Regions from separate parts of the Homo sapiens genome. Here region 1 is linked to region 2. Evidence: fine-mapped expression QTL. Tissue or cell type: nasal epithelium. Region 2 holds a variant in brackets; the other region holds the start of a gene. All regions are shown on one strand. Distances are from middle to middle.

The links. PIP is the estimated chance that this variant, and not a neighbour inherited with it, causes the effect.
Region 1: SLC2A9-AS1 starts here. The variant in region 2 is fine-mapped to the expression of SLC2A9-AS1 in nasal epithelium (TOPMed, PIP 0.94).

Annotation. Positions count from the first base shown.
Region 1 is chr4:9,982,083-9,992,527 of GRCh38, reverse strand. It overlaps SLC2A9-AS1 (SLC2A9 antisense RNA 1), which reads right to left and starts at 4,405. Exons shown (of 4, transcript NR_183862.1): 1 at 4,384-4,405. It overlaps SLC2A9 (solute carrier family 2 member 9), which reads left to right. Exons shown (of 12, transcript NM_020041.3): 4 at 6,735-6,859.
Region 2 is chr4:10,047,199-10,057,643 of GRCh38, reverse strand. No RefSeq gene overlaps it. Among named protein-coding and RNA genes, the nearest start is that of MIR3138, 26 kb to the left of the region's middle. The variant T/C (reference allele first, on the strand shown) is at 5,533.

The DNA.
Region 1 (10,445 bases), 65 kb after region 2:
GGGTTCTCAACCAGAGGGCAATGTTGCCTCATCAGGGGACATTTGACAATGCCAGGAGATGTTTCTGGTTTTCATAACTCAAGGGTGCTACTAGCATCTAGGAGAAGCCAGGGATGCCTCTAAATATCCTACAATGCACGGGACAACCCCCACAGCAAAGAATTTTCCAGTTCCAAATGTGAATAGTGCCAAGGTTAGAAAATCCTGGCAAATAACATTCTAACACTCTGGATTAAGTGCTTTTAAAAAAGCACATCTTAAATGCCTTGAGAATGATGAGTGATTTTATGTTGACTGGCCAGGCCTGTACCACGCATCCACTCCTGAAGCCATGGTTAGGTGGAGACAGGCAGGAAGGTTTCTTGGTGGAAATTTGAGGAACTCCTCCCAGAAGAAGGATGGAGGTTCGGTGAGCACAAACAACAGGCATCCCATACATCACTCCAGGGAAATAGCAGGTTGTCAAAAGGACTATTTTTGCTTTCATCATTTTCTACTTCAACCCTTTAAAAGGCATCTGTATTTTATAGTAGTAGAAAATAACTGTGTCTCTCTAGGTGCCTGCTGGAGGAGCCTTCAGTGTATGTGGCAAGCATGCATTGGTTAGCCCAGGCTGCCATATCAGAATACCACAGATGGAGTGGCTTCAGCAAACAGACATTCATTTTCTCACAGTTCTGGAGGCTGGAAGGCCAAGATCAAAGTGTCGGCAGGTCTTTTCCTCCCGAGGCTTCTCTCCATGGCTTGCAGATGGCTGCTTTCTCGCTGTGTGCTCCCTGTGTGTGTGCATCCCTGGTGTCCCTTCCTCTTCTTACAAGGACACCAATCATCCCACATTAGGGCCGCTTCCTTGTGACCTCATTTTAGTTTAATTATCTCTTTAAAGGCCCTGTCCCCAAATGCAGTCACATTAGGGGTTAGGGCTTTAACAGGTGAGCCTTAAAAAAATCCAAATCTCTCTCTTTCTCCACCTCTCAGCTCAGCTTGTTTTTTGTTGGCTTCATTGTCAGGCAGTTTCTTCTGTGGAGGTGCAAGATGGCCCCAGCTTGATGGAAATTCTCCTTCCAATCATTGTAGTTAAAGTCCCAGGCATGAATCTCCTTGGCCCGAGCGAGGTTACATGCGTTCAAGGGTTCTCAACCAGGGGGCAGGAACATAGTTTAGTCCATGACTGAGCAACACACCGTGCTGCTGACAACCTCTTCTTTCAGGCTGGAATTGTCTCAGAAAGTCAATTGCCCAGAAGCAGAGCCTGAGGCAGGGATTGGGATGCACACATGGCTTGTGGAGGAAGGGCTCTTCAGGAGTAATCTTTAAGGTGGGGAAAGCAGAAAGCAGCAGGGGAAGGAGCCAGGCAAGGCTGCACTCCCTGGTCAAGTTTAGCCTCACTTGGGGGAGCTCTGGGGCATAATCACACCACAGAGTCACCCAACTTGAAGTAAGGGGGCTGCATCCACCCCTACCACTCATCTGTCACTCGCTGCAGGCAGCACTGGGAAAGGGGGATCCACCTTCAGAGCCAATGTCAATCTTCTGGAGAAGAGTCAACCCTGAGCCTTTAGAAGCCAGCATTCATTGAGCTGGGGGAATCCCTGAGGGGATAGGGAGATAACCAGCCAGCCAGGAAACCTGATCCTCAACCCTGCTTCTCCCAGCCTTAGAAGACTTGACTAGTCTTCTAAGCATAGTGAGAATGGCAAGAACTCTGGAAGAAGGAAACTTGGGTTCATGATGGGACATAAGGAGAAAGCCTGGGCATGGTAGATAAGACCAGAAGACTTCGGGACGGCAGGGTTCCAAAGTGTAAAACAAAGAGTCAACACATCCAAAACAAGAGGCTTCAATGGTACAAGCTGTCCCTGCATCACTGGTTTGTTTTATTATGGACACAACCCCTTTGGTATTACAGACGCATGAGCCGGGAAAGCAGGGTTAGAAATCATAAGAAATCTTCAACCCCATCCCCCACTGCCTAGGACATATCTACCAGAACTAAATATTGGCCTTCTCTGAGCTCACACAGGACTTTCAGTTCCCTGTGTTACGTCACTTGGCATTTTGGGTTGTACTCATTTCATTATGTTCCCGTCTCTTCCCTGATAAGGGAGCCCTTCAACGTAAGAACCATATGTATTTATGGCCCCTAGCACCCAACACAGCAGCTTGTACACAGCAGGCAAGCAGTAGACATTTGTTGGATAAATGGAAGGATGGGTGGAAAATGCTCGATGCTTGAATTTTTCTATCACATCTCCCCAGTGTGGCCATCCTTGCTTGCATCTAAGCATCCTTGTATGCTTGCACACTTTCCGTTCCCTCATCCGATTATTTACTCACCACATATCTGTTGAGTACTTTCTATGTGCCAAGCACTCAGGCATGAGCAAAGCTGCCAAAGTCCCTGTCCTCCTGAAGCATGCAGCCAAGCGGGGAGCACAGCCAAGTAACAAGCATGCAGACTGTGCCATTCGGCCTGTGACAAGGACCAATGTAGAAAACAGAGCAGCTCAAGGAGGTCAGAAGATGCTGGGGAGGGTGAAGAGCTCACCACTTTGTTCAGAGGATTCTCTAAAATGGTGACTTGTGCAGGGAGCACTGAAGGAAGCAAGGGAGTGAGCACGCTCATCCCTGGGAAATAGCTCTCCAAGCAGAGGAGGCAGCAGGTGCAAAAGCCCAGGGGCAAGAAGAGGCTCCACTTCTTTGAAGATGAGAGTGGAGGTCAGTGTAGAGATAATCATAGGAAGCTAGATGGGATATTTGGAGTCAGATCCTGAGGACTTTGCAGGCGAGGGTTGAGACTCTTCCTCTGAGCAAAATGGGAAGTCAGTGGAACGTTTTAAGAACTGATCTGACTTGCATTTGGAAAGGTGTGCTGTTATCAGGGGGTCTCAGAGCCTGGTTGGGAGAACCTTGCAATAGCGCAGGTGAGAGAGGACATGGTTTGCACCAGGGTTGGAAAACAAGGGAAGGCAGGTGTCTGGGCACAGATGCAGGTGCAGAAATACAAGCAGAGGGCATGTGGGAAGGGTCTCTTGGGATTGCCTCTGTGTTCTCAGTGAAAAAGAAAGCATGGTCATCAGCTGAGAATGATAAAAAGGGGATTTGAAGAGAGAGAGAAAACATATGAAATAGTCCTCTAGGAGAGAAGGGTGTTGGATGGACCAGGAATCTGTAGACTCAGTGCAGGGGAGCCTTAACCCTTCTTGAGGTTGGTGGTCATGAATTTCAGGTGAGAAAGGACAACACAGCCATATGTTTTTCTCCAGCCAAGCTGAGCTTTGTAGATGCCCAGTAGACAGAGATTTAACCAGCTGGGGTTTTGCCAGGCATATGTAATGAAAGGGGGTGGATGGGCATATAAATATTTAAAGGGATGAGCCAAGGAATTCAAGCTGGGTATGCAGGAACGGATGAACACGAGGAGGGTGAGGGATGTGGAAACAAGGCATGATCTTGGCTTATAGGCCCAGTCAGGCTGAAGATTTACTGGAAAGGTCTGTGGAGAGATACATTATTTCCATAGGTTCTCTGGTCTACTAGGGTTTAATGAAAAGTACTTTCCAAATTCAAACTGAAATAGAATTCCCTATGTCTTCCCCCAATCCGTCCTGGTGCTCTGCACCAAGTTAAAGCATGGCATGAAGGAAGGTGGCTCTCCTGCTTTCTCTGACCTCTTGTCCAGGCGAAATGTCTCCAGCCCCTTTGACACTTCTGAAGGGACATGCCCTCCAATCTCCTCATCACCCTACCATGCTTCCTTGTATTTGGTCTTTTTTTCCCCTTGAGAGCTGATGACTTTCTGGGTTTCATGGGGAAGATTCTACACTATTGGAGAAGCTAAAAACAATGAATCAGGCATCCTAGGTGGAGTTCTGGGGACACTGGAGTTCTGCTTTCAGAATTGATCTCCCTTGTTTATGTTGCTGTTCATCCACAGGAAACAAATGGAAACAATGATTAAAGTCCTGCTCTGAAGCCCAGTGAGTCAGCTTTGCAAAGGATTTGCACACATTTCCATCCTCACTGCAATGCTGTCAGGCTGAGGGTTATTTTGGGAAGGAATATATTAATATGATAAACTTGCCCAGAGAGTGTGCACTCCCGTTTGCACATGTTTCAAGTCAGACTTTCATATAATTTTAACATTCTCACAAACCTTTCATGCAGTTTTAAAATTAGCACAAAATACACCATCATGTCCAAAGTAAGGGTTCAGACCAAAGCTTTTGGAGGCATCCTTGGCTCCTCTATGCCTCTCCACCTCTGTCCAGTCCATCAGCAAATCCCACCAACTCACTCTTCAAAATATGCTAGGATCTGACCACTTCTCACTAAGTGCACTGCTCCCAGCCTGGTCCAAATCATTACCAGTGGTTGACTCACCTGTTGTGGTAGCTCCCCAGCTGGTCTCCCTGCTTTCACACTTGTCCCCTGCAGTCCAGGAGCAACAGAGAAGACAAGATGTAGTGATCTTGTTCAAGTATTAGCCGGTGTCATTCCTCTCCTTGGAATCTCCCAGTGGCTGCTATCTCCCCCAGGGGGGAAACGCTAGTTCTTATGGTGGCATAGAAGACTCTCTGAGTTCTTCTTTTCTCTTCTCAACTTTCACTTTCTACTGCTTGCTCCCTGGCTCCCTACTGCCTCCAGCCAGGCTGGCCTCACTGATGTTTCTTTCTTTCTTTTTCTTTTCTTTTTTTTTCAAGACGGAGTCTCGCTCTGTCACCCAGGTTGGAGTGCGGTGGCATGATCTTGGCTCACTGCAATCTCTGCCTCCTGGGTTCAAGCAGTTCTCCTGCCCCAGTCTCCCGAGAGGCTGGTTTAGAGAAAAAAACTTATATTTTTATATAATGAGTATAATAGCATCTGCCATAACTGAGTCCCATAATTTATGACAAGAGGCAATGTTAGCTGGTGGGAAGAGCGCAAGTTCTAAGATCAGAGACCCACTGGGGCTCTATTGGGCAAAATAATTTTTTAACCACAATTTACAAAACAATTTAATATCTGTTAACTCATTGAGTCTATAGGAAAAAAAATAAGCCGTAAAGGGCTAAGATGTTTCCCCAACTCCTTGACTCACTGACTATATGACCTAAAACAAGTTTCTAGGCCGGACGCAGTGGCTCACGCCTGTAATCCCAGCACTTTGGGAGGCTGAGGCAGGCAGATCACCTGAGGTCAGAAGTTTGAGACCATCCTGGCCAACATGGTGAAACCCCGTCTCTACTAAAAATACAAAAATTAGCTGGGTGTGGTGGTGCATGCCTGTAATCCCAGCTACCCAGGAAGCTGAGGGAGGAGAATCACTTGAACCTGGGAAGTGGAAACTGCAGTGAGCAGAGATTGTGCCAATCCACTCCAGCCTGGGTGATAGAGCAAGACTCTGTCTCAAAAATAAAAATTAAAAATAAAACAAGTTTCTAGCTTGCCAGCAACCTAGTTAACTTGTTTATAAAATAGAGATTATAAGAGTACCTATCTCTTTGGGTCATTCTGAGGATTAAATGAGCTACTAATGCAAAGTACTTAAAGCAGGGTCTATCCTATAGCAAGAGTTCAATAAATGTGGGCTTTTAGGATCATTTTGCAAAAGTGAGGAAAAGAAAACACAGAGAAATGAAGTTCAAAGTCTCCTAGCTCCTGAAGGATAGAGCTGGTGCAGGAATCCAGGTCCCCAGGCCTCCAAACAAGTCAGGTATTTGAACCATGAGGTCTTAGGCATGTGTTTATAAAAGTGATGGCAGTCCTGACACAGAGCTGTTAATAATAATTATTGCCATGGAAATTTCCCTAATCTTGTTTGAGAGGATTAGTCCAGCCATTCACTTAGTACTGTAGTTCATCAAATCTAAGATGCCATTGGGTCTGAGGAGTATTGTTATTTTATGAGCCACTGGAAAGGAAAGGAAATAAGGAAGAAAGGGAGGGAGGGAGGGAAGGAGCCAACAAAAGTTGTAGAACGCTATGCTGGTTGTCAAGCTGTTGTCTCCTAGCTCCACACTTACCCTTCTGGGCTCTCTCTCTCTGATGCTGGGGCTGGGGCCTGCACCCCCATTTGTCCTTTGCCAATAGGGGCACTAGAGGAGAGAGAAAAGACTAGCTTTTTCATGTTTGTCTGAGTTTCCTGCCAGTCCCAGTGATGACATTGGCAGTTGATTCCAGCTTCCAACTTTTGTCCATTTCCAGAACCAGAATCATATTGCTCCTCAGAGGAAACAGTCCAGTGGACAGTGCCCACTCTCAAAGGTCTTCGGGGCCCTCCTCCATGCCCCTGAGGTGTCAGCACCACATGGGAAACACCCCTTCTTCAGAGGTCTTCCTTTTTGACATCTCGGTTCTTCAATATCCACTTAACCAATTCCCTATGTTAAATTCTCTCCATTAAAATACCTAGAGTGGTTTCCATTTTCCTGCCTGGACCCTGACTCACGAATTGTAAGATGACCACTGACTTCAGAAATGTTAAATGATAGTCTTAGAATTAAAGCAATAAAATACTACCACAGAGAATTCATAGATGTCAAGGCTGATGGTGCCTTTGTAAGTGACCTAGTAGACCCCAGGGCTGAACCCAGTCACACAGCCAGAGGTGGCAAGGCCAGTGCTCCCTGCACTGTGCCTGAGTCTTGCTCTACTCACCCTTCAGAAGGGCCTGGCTCCTGCTCCTGGGATGGACAGTTCAGTGACATGCCTCATGGTTAGACATCTTCATCAAATCTTTCCTTTCTTTCCAGGAAGCACACTTTGCTGGCCAATAATGGGTTTGCAATTTCTGCTGCATTGCTGATGGCCTGCTCGCTCCAGGCAGGAGCCTTTGAAATGCTCATCGTGGGACGCTTCATCATGGGCATAGATGGAGGTGAGAGTTCACCATGACGGGGAGGGAACAGTAACATACTCCTTGGGGGTGTCCCAAAATGTGAGAAGTGTTTGGGGCTGTCACATGACTGGGGCTCTCTGCTGGCATTGACTTGGCAGGGACCAAGGATGCTGGAACTCTGCATAAAGTGGGACAGTCCTGTGGGATGAACCATCCCATTCATGATGCTCTAGCCCCTAATTGAGGAATGCTGGGCAGGGTCCGCAGTCTACCCCAAAGACCTGGATGGTCTTCAGCATGTCATGCCTTCTGTTTGGTCACCTTCATCATAATGTTAATATTCCAAGGTTATTTGTGGTTTTCATGGGGCTTTTATGAGGATGGGGTTTCTTCTCTGGGCCTCTGACTCATTCGTTATTTCATTTACTCGCCAGGCATTTGTAGAGCACCTGCGAGGGCTGGCACACTATAGGATGGAGACACAATGATTAACAAGACCCTGTCCCTGGAGCTTACATTCTAGTGGGCAGACAGATACATAAGGTAGACAGTAGCATGTCCTAGGAAGAAAACAAAGCAGGACAGGAGGGTGGTGAGGGCTGTTTTAGAAAGGCCAATCAGGGAAGACTGCTCAGAGAAGGAAACCTGAGCAGAGACCAGAGGAGCCAAGGGTGAGAACTGTTCCCAGCAGAGAGAAGAGTATTATGTCTCAGAGGCGGAAGGAGGCATGGCACGTCTGGGAAAGAGCAAGGAGATGTGTGGGTGCTGATGACGCCAAAGAGGAGCTGGGGCCAGATCACATAAGACCTTGTAGGCCACGGCGAGGACTGTGTGCCTGTGCCGAGTATGCAGGGAGGGTTGAGATGAATGTGACATGGACTGGTTTGTTCCAGTAATGGAGTATGAGGGGAAGCCAGGAGTGGAATCAGAGGAGCCAGCTGTTCAGGGGAAGGGACTGGGCTAGGTGGGGAGCTGCAGAGAAGGGGACAGATGCTGGCTATGGGAGTGAGAGTAGGAGACTCAAGATATATTGTCAGACAAACGCTGCTCTCTTTCTAAATAGGCAAATCCATAAAGTATCACTTTTAGGCATTTGTGGAAAGATTGCAAGCCTTAGGATTAGAAATCCCTGAGTTTGGATCTCAGTTCTGCTGCAAGTTACTTAATGGCTCTGAGCCTTGGTTTTCCCATTTGTAAAATGGTGGTAATAATACCTACTTCAAAAGGCTATAATAAGGCTGAACGGAAACACACACTCTGTCTCTCTCTCTCTCTCTGTCTCTCTCACACACACACATATACACATATGTACTGCCTGGAACCTAGCATGAGCTTCTTAAAGGCTAATTCCCTTCCTTGTCGATGTCTTAAAAGCTGAGGGTACCAGGTTGTTCAGCTGAGTGAGATGAACAATAAAAATGTCTCAGGGAGAGGTGAGCAGGAGAGTGGGGGCCTGGAAGTAAGGTTGAGAAGAGGAGGCTTCACTTACTTTTGTTGCCCTGCTGGAGGGGAATAATCTAGGCCTCTCTAATAGTCCAAACTCAAGATGAAATGACTCCTCAATCATTTGTCTATTCATTTGTCTATACTACTTGAATAGACTCCTTCTATTGATGGCTATTGAGAGTTTATCCATAAGAATAATGGCTGGTGTCTATGTAATGTTTTATAACTGACCAACTGTGTTCATGCTTTTCATTTTTTTTGATCTCCTCCTGTAATGAAAGACTGTTTTCTCATGTTCATTTTACAAATGGGGGCCCTAATGCTCAGAAAGCTGGAGCAGGAAAGTGGTTAAGGGTGAAGACTATGGAGTCAGACTGCCTGAATGCTCTCACTTGCTTCCATTAATTTCATTAATTTATCTGTATAGGTTAGGTTTGATGTATTTAAAAACCCCGAAACTTAAGCCATGATGGCACCACTGCATTTTAGCCTTGGCTACAGAGCGAAACCCTGTCTCTTAAAAAACAAAACAAAACTTAATGGCTTCAAATAGTAACCATTTTCCTGTGCTTTCACTTCTGTGGGTCGGCTGGGCAGTTCTGCTCTGGGCCAGCTCTGCCAATCTCTGCTGGGCCTTCTCATGTGTCTGCGGTGGCTTCAGGTTGGTCAGTGGCTGGATGACCTGGGATGGTCTCACGCCTGTGTTTGGGTGTTAGCAGGTGGCCTGGTCTCACGGGCTGTCAGTGGGCCAGCTCATTTCTTGGCTTCCCACCCTGGGCCAGGGGGGCCTGGGCTGCCTTGCATAAAGTTCTTGGGCTTCCAACAGCAGCCAAAGGAGAAAGTCCCAATGTGCACAATGTGCAAGCACTTTGCATGCACGTTTGCTGGTGTCCCTTTGGCCCAAGCAAGTCCCATGGCCACGTGCAGAATAAATGTCAGAGAGGACTAACTCCCCAAGGATGTCGATCCAGGGAGGGGGTACAAATCAGGGACCACTGCAGCAACCATTGACCTCACAGTCTTGGCCTCTTTCCCACCTGGCGTGGCAACTTAGCAGTAAGGCCTCCCTTGTTGGGTGATGTGAAAATTAAATGGGCCGGGCACGGTGGCTCACACCTGTAATCCCAGCACTTTGGGAGGCCGAGGCGGGCGGATCACCTGAGGTCAGGAGTTTGAGAGCAGCCTGACCAACATGGAGAAACCCTGTCTCTACTGAAAATACAAAATTAGCTGGGCATGGTGGCATATACCTGTAATCCCAGCTACTCGGGAGGCTGAGGTGGGAGAACCACTTGAACCCAGGAGATGGAGGTTGCGGTGAGCCGAGATCACCCATTGCACTCCCGTCTGGGCAACGTTAGCAAAACTCGATCTCAAAAGTAAATACATAAATAAATAAATAAAATAAACGATGTTCTACGTATTGAAGTACTTAGTGTAGTTCCAGGCACTTAGTGCCCCACTCCAGGAATGCTGATGGTATTATTGTCATTGTTGTTATTTGTGTTCTTAATTAATAAAGTACAGATCTAGGATTTGGGTTTCAGAGGCCCTGCCTGCTTTGGAGAAAGCCTGGATGAGGTTGCAGTGGATCTTCTGGGAAGTCCTTTCCTAGTGGAGGCAACTGAGATTCTCTGTTTGGCAGTTTTATATTTTATCCATTATCCCCTTTCTTGTTGCTTTGACTAATCTGGGGAGTTGACCCTTCGAACATATAACTAATTGATCTCTGAATTTCCTTAACTAAAAATAAGCTGCATTCCAAGATGGACCTTTTACAAAACCACAGAGATAGAACAAATGTCTTTTAGACCCTTTTTCCTATGAGCTTTCAAAAAGAAGCAGGAAAGAAAGAAGAACAAGAAGGAAAGAAAAAACTTCGGTCTTTCCGACTTGTGGCACGTGGCCTGTTGGAGTCACGCCAGGACTTGGAGACTTCATGTCATGTATTCTCACCAACCCTCTCAAAGCAGAGAGAAGAACTCGAGGGCACTTAAGGTGAGACAATTGGTCAGAAAGAAAGGAATATTGCTGCTATTACCTGAACTGGCCGATCTGTTTGTAATAAAGAATTTAAAGCCGGTCCGGGCGCAGTGGCTCACGCCTGTAATCCTAACACTTTGGGAGGCCAAGGCAGGCGGATCATCTGAGGTCGGGAGTTCGAGACCAGCTGACCAAC
Region 2 (10,445 bases):
CTTGATTTACGTCTCAGGGACCCAAGTTCCATAAAAAGCTTTAGCGGTCAGAGTCATACATCTCAGACTGTCAGCATCTACTCCAGGCCAGTCGCTTAACCTCTCTGTGCCTCAGTTTCCTCATTTGGAACGTGGAGCCATCATGGAATCTTCCTCGTTGAGTTATTGTGAGGGTTAAATAAGACAATACCTGCTTTAGCACAGTGTCCAATTCAAAGCTCAATACGTTTATTGATAAAGCATCATCATTGTTATATTTTAACAGGAACTTAAAAATGAAAGGGAGGAGACCCCAAGTTGTTAACACCATGCGGGGTGGCAGGAGCAGGCAGCAGGGGACAATGACACCTACCAGGCCTCCTTCCTCCTTGGGGGATGGGGCTGCATGCATTCTAGGCAGCATCTTATTTATCAAGAGTTTCAGGGAGGTGAAATGGCAGTACCAGCATCCCATTACTAACTTGAAGTGAGACTCAAATCCAGCCCACCTCCCTGCAAAGCCCATGCTCACCTCCCCAAGTCACCATCCTGGAGGGAGGATTTGCTCGGCTCAGAGGTTCTGAACCCTGGCTGCATGGAGGAACGTTGCAGGTTCTCTAACAATCTCTATCGATGCCTGACCCCACCCTCGACTAAATGACTTTGACGCTCTGAGGGTACCTTGACCTCAGCATCTTTTCACAGCTCTCCATGTGGTTGTCATGACCAGGGATGAGAACCACAGGTGGCCTCACTCCGGCATCTATAACACTGACGTTTCAGGCAGTAACTATGGAAACCTGGCCCAAATTCTAGATGAACTCACACACACCCGTCTCTTGTTAATAAATGAATTTGTCCATTGCTGCCTATGATGGTTATTTTTAATGTATCAACTTGGCTGGGCCACAGTGTTCAGATATGTGGTCAAACATTAATCTGGATGTTTCTGTGAAGGTTTTTTTTTTTTTTTTTAAATGAAACTCACATTTAAATCTGTGGATTTTGAATACAGCGGATTGCCCTCTATAACATGAGCTGGCGTCATCCAATCATTTGAAGGCCTTACTAGAACAAAGACTGACCCTATCCTAAGCAAGAAGGAATTCTGCCAGCAGATAACCTTTGAACTTGGGCTATGGCTCTTCCCTGGAACTCCAGCCTGTCTTACAGGTTTTGGATTTACCATGCTTCCACAATCATGTGCACAAATTTTTCTTTTTTGAGACAGCGTCTTACTCCTGTTGCCCAGGCTGGAGTGCAGTGGCACAATCATGGCTCACTGCAGCCTCCACTTCCTGGGCTCAGATGAGTCTCCCACCTCCACCTCCCCAGCAGTTGGGACTATAGGTACACTCAATCACACCTGGCTAATTTTTTGTATTTTTTGTAGAGATGAGATCTCACTATGTTGCCCAGGCTGGTCTAGAACTCCTGTGCTCAACTGATACTCCCTGCTTGGCCTCCCAAAATGCTGGGATTACAGGTATGCGCTGCTGCACCTGGTCGTGTGTGTCAATTTCTTAAAAAATCTCTCTCTGTGTACATACACACACACACACACACACACACCCTGCTCCAATTCTCTGGAGAACCCTGATGAAACACTACCATGATAAAAACTGGCCTCTTACTCAGCACAGTCATAAACAAAGCATCCCACTTGTATTAGTCTGTTTTCACGCTGCTCATAAAGACATACCTGAGACTGGGAAGAAAAATAGGTTTAACTGGACTTACAGTTCCACATGGCTGGGGAGGTCTCAGAATCATGGCGGGAGGTGAAAAGGACTTCTTACATGGCAGCTGCAAGAGAGAATGAAGAAGGAGCAAAAGCAGAAACCCGTGATAAACACATCAGATTTCATGAGACTTACTATCACTAGAGTAGCACAGGAAAGACTGGCCCCCATAATTAAATTACCTCCCCCTGGGTCCCTCCCACAACATGTGGGAATTCTGAGAGAGACAGTGCAAGTTGAGATTTGGGTGGGGACACGAACAAACCATATCACCACTCTGGCTTGTTTTGAAAACCCTGAGCAGACAATGAGTGTCACAGAAGCACAGGATATTCAACCTTGCCAGGGGCAATACAGAGCACCTGGTCTAACTAAAATAGAACACTAGAGTTAGAAATAACCCTGGGGCTATTATGCCCCCCAGGGGACATTTGGCAATGTCTGGAGACATTTTTGGTTGTCACAACTGAATGGGGGTGCTGCTGGCATCTGGTGGGCACAGGTGAGGGACACTGCTCAGCATCCTAGAGTGCATAGGACAGGCCCTGCAACAGAAGTATCCAGTCAAAAATGTCATGGTGCCAAGGCTGAGAAACTCTTGTGTTAGGAGGAGGAAACACTTCATCATTGTGGAAACTAACTTCTCATCTCACAAAAGGTGATTGGGATCTCACAAAAGGTGATTTGGAGGGAGCCCTAAAGAGGCAACAGGAACCTTTTTGTGTTTTTTGTAGAGATGGGGCCCCATTATGTTGCCGAGGCTGATCTCAAATTCCTGGGCTCAAGCGATCCTCCCACCTCAGCCTCCCAAAGTGCTGGGGTTACAGGTATGAAACACCGTGCCTGGCCAACAGGAACCTTTTTGATGAACTGGAAAAAGAGCTTGGGGGAAAATATTACTGGCAAGGCCAGAACACGTTGGAGAAATTCTTTAGAAACCAGCTTTACCTTGGAGGTAGGACCAGGAGTCTAGCCAATGGGAGCTTCATGGACATGAATGTGTGGCTTAAATTACATTGCTGTGTGGGCATGAATCAGACGCTCTGCCCATGAAGAGTTCTAGCACCAAGTCAGTGCAAGACCCGAGGTGGTGAGTGGCCATCTGTGTTTTCTTGCTGCAGCTGTTGTTGTTGTTGTTTTAAATATCAGGAGCAATCTGATAAACTTTCTAGAGGAGCCCAGTACAGAGAACTAGGATGCCAGACTGGCTGTCTCTCTGCTAAGAATTATCCTATTGTTCTGACTATAAGATGTGCATGACTTCACATTTTAACCTTTTGAAAATTGGGACACATCCAGGCAGTAGCAGTCATGTGTGATGTTCAGAACACAATGCCTCGTTTCCTCAGTAAAGGTTTACTAAAAGAGTTCATGAGTAAGTGGGAAAAATGAATTAGGTACTAAACAAATAAATAATATTTTGGTTTCTTCATTTGTAAGTGGAGAGATTACAACAAAGTTGTACGAATCCATGGGAATGACATATTCAAGTGATTGAAAAAGGTTAAGTTTCCTTTGATGTTCCTCTCTCTTGCTTTTCTTCTCTCTTGTCTTTGGATGATGTTAAAAAACAAAGAAAAATTGAAAAGTAGAGCTGCATTGAGATGAATGTACCTTAACCTCAGGAAAGCAAACACACACACAACCAGAGGCACAGAAGCGGGTTGGGCAACACGTGGCTCCAGGGGCACATGAATTTCCAGTTGAGCATCTTAATGTATGACCGATTCCATACGAGGCAAGTGCAATGTGGCTACCTTGAATCAAACTAGTGAGTCCTCTGGCTATCCTAGTAGGGGCACTAGAAAGGAGAGGGCAGATGTGGCTCCAATCAACGGCATGGATGGGCTTGGGCCCCTTGGACACCGCACACTAGGACAGACACAGAGGTTACAGGGGCCCTGGCTGATGTGGCAGGGTCCCTCGCTATTGTCTCCATTCATTCACTTATTCATTCCTTCAGCAAATCATTGTTAGTGCTGAAGTAGTTTCCTGTGGCTGCTGTAACAGATTCCGACAAACTTGGTGGCTTAGACAGCACAGGTTCATTATCCTACAGCCCTGGAGAAATTAGAACTGTGTCTCACTGGACTAAACAGGATGTCAGCAGGGCTGTTCCTTTCTGGAGGCTCTGGGTGGGGTCTGTTTGTTTGATTTTTTTAGAGCTTCTAGGGGCTGTCTGGGTTTCTTGGCCTATGGCTTCTTCTATCTTCAAAACCAGCAAGGGTGAGCTGGGTCCTTTCCATGTCACATCTTTCTGACACATCTCTCTGACTCTCTTTTGTCTCCTCTCCCACCTTTTTTTTTTTTTTTTTTTTTTGAGACACGGTCTCACTCTGTCACCCAGGCTGGAGTGCTCAGCCATCACGGCTCACTGCTGCCTTGATCTCCCAGGCTCAAGTGATCCTCTCACCTCAGCCTCTAGAGTATCTAGGACTACAGGCATGCACCACCATGCCGAGATAATTTTTAAAATTTTTTAGGGGCGGGATCTCTGTATGTTACCCAGGCTGGTCTCGAACTCCTGGCCTCAAGCAATACTCCACCTCCTAAATGCTGGAGTTACAGGCATGACCACCAGGCTGAGCTCCTCTCTTGCTTTTAAGGGCCCTTGTGATGACAGTGGATCCACCCAAATAAACCAGGATGATCTCCCTGTTTGTTGTTTGTTGGTTGGTTGGTTGGTTTTTTGAGACGGAGTCTTGCTCTGTCGCCCAGGCTGGAGTGCAGTTGTGCGATCTAGGCTCGCTGCAAGCTCCACCTCCCGGGTTCACGCCATTCTCCTGCCTCAGCCTCCCGAATAGCTGGGACTATAGGTGCCTGCCACCATGCCTGGCTAATTTTTTTTGTATTTTTTAGTAGAGACAGGGTTTCACCATGTTAGCCAGGATGGTCTCGATCTCCTGACCTCTTGATCCACCCGCCTCAGCCTCCCAAAGTGATGATGATTTCCCTGTTTTAAGGTTAGCCAATTTACAACACTCATTCTCTCTGCCACCTTAATTTCCCTTTGCCAGGTATGGTGACATATTCACAGCCTCCTAGGATTCAGATGTGGATATTTTTGGGAGCAGGTGGGAAGCACTAATATGCCTGCCCCACCAGTTCCTAGGCTGTGCCAATATTGTGCTGATTATACATGGGGCAGATCAGAGGTGATCTCTCCTCCCACAGGGAGTATGCATTCTAGAGAGGAGGACAGCTCTCCAAGAGTAGTTATATATATCAAGTAGTACTAAGTGATACAAGAAGACATCTTATGGTCCAGGGATAGAGAGTTAAGGGGTGTAGTGTGATTGTTTTTGAGAGCATGGTCATGGAAAGCCTTTCTGTAAAGGTGATAACAGAGCAGAGACCTGGATGTTGAGAAGGAGCCTCTGATCTGGGGCAGAATAATCCAGGCATAGGGGAAAGCAAGAGCAAAGGCCCTGAGGCATGCACAAGGAATTGTCAGAAAGCCAGCCGTGTTGCCGGGGCAAGGTGAAAAGGGGGTCAGAGAAGGGAGATGATGGTGATCAAAGCAGGGATCAGATTACTGGGATGTTATGGGCCAAGTGGTTTGGGATTTGTTGTTGTTGTTGTTTTGTTTTGTTTTTTTGTTTTATTTTGTTTTTTGTTTTGTTTTTATTTTTGGAGACAGAGTCTCACTGTGTCATCCAGGCTGGAGTGCAGTGGTGCGATCTCGGCTCACTGCAGCCTCCACCTCCTGGGCTCAAGCAATTCGCCTGTCTCAGCCTCCCGAGTAGCTGGGGTTACAGGCACGCACCACCACGCCTGGCTAAGTTTTGTATTTTTAGTAGAGACGGGGTTT[T/C]GCCATGTTGGCCAAACTGGTCTCGAGCTCCTGACCTCAGGTGATCCACCCGCCTCACCTTTCCAAAGTGCTGGGATTACAGACTTGAGCCACCACTCCCGGTCCCTGGGTTTTAATTCTGAGGAAAATGGGAAGCCACTGGAGGGCTTTAGGAAGGGTGGCAGCATGCTCTGATTGACACTGAAAATGATCACCTTTGTTGCTGAGTGCGATCGGTTTGCGGGGGACAAGGGTGGAGGCTGTGAGAGCTGGTGGGAAGGCATCTTGGCTGGCTGAGAGTAGAGTAATGAAAACAGGCAGCCGCGGGATCTGTTTTGTGGTGGAACCCATAGCGCTGCAGACAGAGTACATGTCAGGTGAGAGAAATATGGAGGGATCAGGGAGGATTAGACTCTGCCTGAGCCAACAAAGTCTCCTTAAAGGGAGGGGCTGGTTAGCCTGGAGCAGAGACCATCTGGATCAGGGATTCATGAACACTCCCTTGAAATGCCTGAATGCCTGTCATGGGGGAACAGATTCTCTTGATTCTCTCCGCCCTTAGATGTGAAAACAAAGCCCAAATGAAGGACAGATAAAGAGAGGGAGATATCAGCTAACCTAGACATCTCATATTGGAAGTGGCATGAGCTGCGGGGCCAGAGGAAACAGCATGCAACCCTGACTCTGCTGTTCCAGTGCTGGGATTGGGACAGGTTATCTGAAGTCTCTGACATGACATTTCACAATCTCTAACGTGATAGAGGTAATGTTACTATAATACTAAAAACAACAGCACATGCTTACATATCTGTGATTTGTGATGTGACAAGAAGTATATTTTGATCTCTGCTCTCAGTTCCTGAGATAAGAATCCTAAAACCCTGGTAGATAGGGGTGCTAGGAGAATCTTTTGTTCTAATCGATTTAGTCTTTTCCTCTTGGTTCCTGACACACAGCTCCTGAATCCCTTGGCATTTCCAGGGTGATAGGGGCATTTCCTCTTCTAATGATGTGACTCTTGGTGGGCTCCTCGATAGCCCCAGGGTGGGGGGCTGGTTGCCAGGGTAACCAAGCATGTGAGTAAAGGGCTGGAACTTTGATCCCCACCCTTTGAGGAGAGGAGATGGGCTGGAGGTTGAGTTGATTACCAATGGCCAGTGATGTCATCAACCATGCCTATGTAATGAAGTCTCCATAAAAACCCAAAGGGACAGGGTTTGGCGAGCTTGCAGGCAGCTGAACATGTGGGGATGCCTGGAGGTGGGGAGGTGCCATCAGTAAGGGCATGGAAGCTCCCTGTCGCCTCCCCACACCTTTTCCCACGCATCTCTCCCATCTGGCTGCTCATCTCTATCCTTTGTAACATCCTTTATAATAAATGGGTCATCGTAAGACAAGTATCTCCCTGAGTTCTGTGAGCCGCTCAAGCAAATTAATCAAACCTGAGGAATGGGTCACAGGAAACCCCAATTTATAGCCAGTTGGTTAAAAGTACAGGTCACAACCTAGGGCTTGTGACTTGCATCTGAAAGGGGGGCGGTCTTGTGGGACTGAGCCCTTAACTTGTGGGATCTGACGCTCTCTAGGCAGACAATGTCAGAATTGAATTGAATTAGAGGATGCCCAGCTGGTGTCTGCTGGAGAATTAGTTGCTAGTGAGGATAAATCCTCATGCATTTTTGGTGACCAGAGGTGAGTGGTGTGTGTGGGAAACTAGGAGAGACTGGTTCTTCCTGTCTCTCACAATAGCGCTTTTAACATGTGAAACACAGTTCTAACAGCTGTGTGTGTGGAAACTCATTCCTCACAGCAGCCTGAGGACACAGGTGCTCCTATCATTGCCATTTTAGAAAGAAGGCACAAGGAAGTTGAGTTATTTGCTTAAGGTCACACAGCGAGTATAGGGCACCGTCATCATACATCATACAATCATCTCTACAAGATACAGACTGCCTGTCCTTCACCTCCACCTATCAAACACATCAGTCAAAACACGGCATGTGCCATTATTAACTGTTTTGTGATGACACAATGCTATTTAGTTTCAGGATCAAAATTCAGCATGCTCTCAAAGTCTGGAATTGTGGCTGGAAGCGAACACGTTGGCATATAAAGTGGATAAAAGGCAAGACAGTTCTTCCTTTAGATTCTAGATTCAATCACACAAACTCACTCTATAGCCCTCAGACCACAGCTGGAATGTTTTTCCCCAATGGTGATGATCCTTGGGGGCTGCGGCTGACCAAGGGCCGCGGCTCCTCTGCAGAAAGTCCAGGTTGGCACCGTGGTGGACCCTGGAAAAAAGGTGTTCTCAAGGGGGGCACCTCACTAGGCTGTTTGCCTCTCCTCCCTCTGGCCTCTTGCACTGCACTTCTGGTTGCATTAAACTTCACAACCCACTATTTTGGAAACATGGAATAAAAGGGCTTCAATCACATGACAGTGGCTGGTACTGTCCAGATCTGAGTGTTGCACAAGAACGTACTTTGGTAGTAATTCAGCCATCCTTTCGTTATATGTTAAGTCCTAAGGCATTGAGGTTTTATTGAGTACTTTCTAAGAGCTGGACACCACTGGGGATACAACAGTGAATAGGACAGACACAGTTCTGCCTCATGCTGAGCTTTTGTCAACAGACAAAATGATTGTCAAGAGTGACAAATACACCATGCGCTGGCTGGAGCATGAAGGGAGGACATGGTGGAAATGCAGATTGTCCTCCAAGTTCAATGAGAAGCACTGAGGGACGATCTGGCAGGAGAGTGATGAAGGCTGGGCTGGGAGTGGCAGCCAAGCAGGAAGAGAGATAGAGCTGAGATACAGCTTGGATCAGATTCAATACCAGATTGATGGATGGATGAGGTTAAAAAGGAAGCAAAAGGAATCAAAGGTGATGCTGAGCTAAACAAGGAAGCTGGTGGGGTTATCTACTGAGATATTGAGGCAATCACAGGGCCAGTGATAAGAGAAGACTTTGGGGGAGAAACTCAAGAGTCTGTGAGTCACCACATGGTTATGTCAGGTACACAGCTGAATATGCAGGTCTGGACCTTAGTTGAGCTGTCTGGACTAGACATTCTGGTCCAGTTTTTGTCCCCTGTAATGTAAACTACTTCTGATCTCCTTTTCTGAGAGGCATGGAATTTAAAATTCCACTTGCCAATCAGTGGCTGCACTCAATATGCCTCAGGCTTTGTTAATCTGCACTAGAACAGACACCACATCAGGCAGCAACTGCAGGTGGGGCTACCACTTGGCTATGTTTCTAAAGTTCCAGGGTCTTCTGCTATGATCCATATAATTTTTATAGGATCGGGCTAGTGAATCAAATAGCATGTGAGAGGCACCACTGCTCCTGGATGCTTCAAGACTCTGAGGATGGCCCTAGCCCTTGCCATTTTCCTGGGATGCAATATCGTTCCTCCTTCTCTTAGCCACGTAAGAGAAGAGAAGAGAAAATCATTCCCTATCTTGGCAGGAAGTTGAAATTCCAGGGCTCCAGTTGGTCTTTTCTACTGTAATAACTTTTACACTGCAGGTCAGGGGCAGAGTGAGGGTCCTCCCGATGGCTAAGAGTGTCCTTCCTACAAACATTTAGGGCCCAGGGAAATGAGCGTGGGGTGGGTGTGGGGACTCAGTGCACTACCATGAGACACACCTGGGCCAGAGCTCTATTTGCTACCTGACTCCCATATGGCCAATGATAACAGGGGAGCCTGGGTGATGTTTTGGATTCCTGGATACCAGCATCAACCCAGACCCTGTATCGAACAGCACCAGAAACATCTCTTACTTTCCCCTAGTGCATGGTTACTTGAGTAAGTGGCCACAGGGTCTTTAGGGGTATTAAATGAGGGAGTCGCTACTGTCTCTACTTCAAGTTCTACCTTGAGGCAAGGGAACCTGCCATTTACGCCCTTGTATCAGGAAGTCATTGGCCAAGCCTGAGGTTGGTGGCCTGCCCAGTAAGGCTTCCTGTTGGCTGGGGGCTGTTCTGCGGAAAAGGGAGCAGCTGTGAGATTCTATCAGCACCATTTCTAGCAGGAAGGGACTAGGATATGGACTAACAGAGGGGCTGCAGTTGGAATATCAGTAGCATTCGCCAGTCATCTGCTGAGGGCAAGAGATAGATGGGGAGGTTAGAGAATTACAGAAAACAAAGGAGGCTCAAGAAACACTTTTTAGAGAATGAGATTTTGGATAGCATGCCACCCATCTGAGCATGGCAACATGTGTTGTGATGGAATCTGCATTAGCCAGTGTTCTCTAGAGAAACAGAACCAATAAAAAGATAGAGAGAGGTACATAAATTTACTATAAAGAATTGGCTCATGAAATGATGGTGGGCTGATAAGTCCCAAGGTCTGCAGTTGGCAAGCTGAAGACCCAAGATTGCTGACAGTGTAGTTCTAGTCTACATCTGAAGGCCTGAGACCTAAGAGAGCCAATGGTGTAGTTCTCTTCGGAAGACCAGTAGGTGCAAGACCCAGGAAGGGCTAACATTTTTGTTCAAATCCAAAGGTAAGAAAAAGACCAATGATCCAGCTCAAAAGCAGTCAGGCAGGAGGCATCCCCTCTTATCTGGGAGAGGGTCAGCCCTTTTCTTCCAGTCAGACCTTCAGCTGATTGGACAAGGCCCACTCACAGGGGAAGGGCAGCCTGCTTTAACTCAGTCGGCTACTTCAAATGCTAATTTCATCCAAAAAGACCTTCACAGAAATGCTGAGAGTAGTGTTTGACCAAATGTCTGGGCACCTTGTAGTCCAAGCATATTGATGCATACAGAACCATCACATTAAACCATCACAGAATCCATCTTCCTGGCTGGCCTGTCCACAAGGCAGAAGAGAAAGTGGAGAGTTGGAGCCATCTCGGCTTGGAATGCTGACGTAAAACTGTGAAGAAGGAAGGGAGGCAGAAGACTTTAGAGTAAG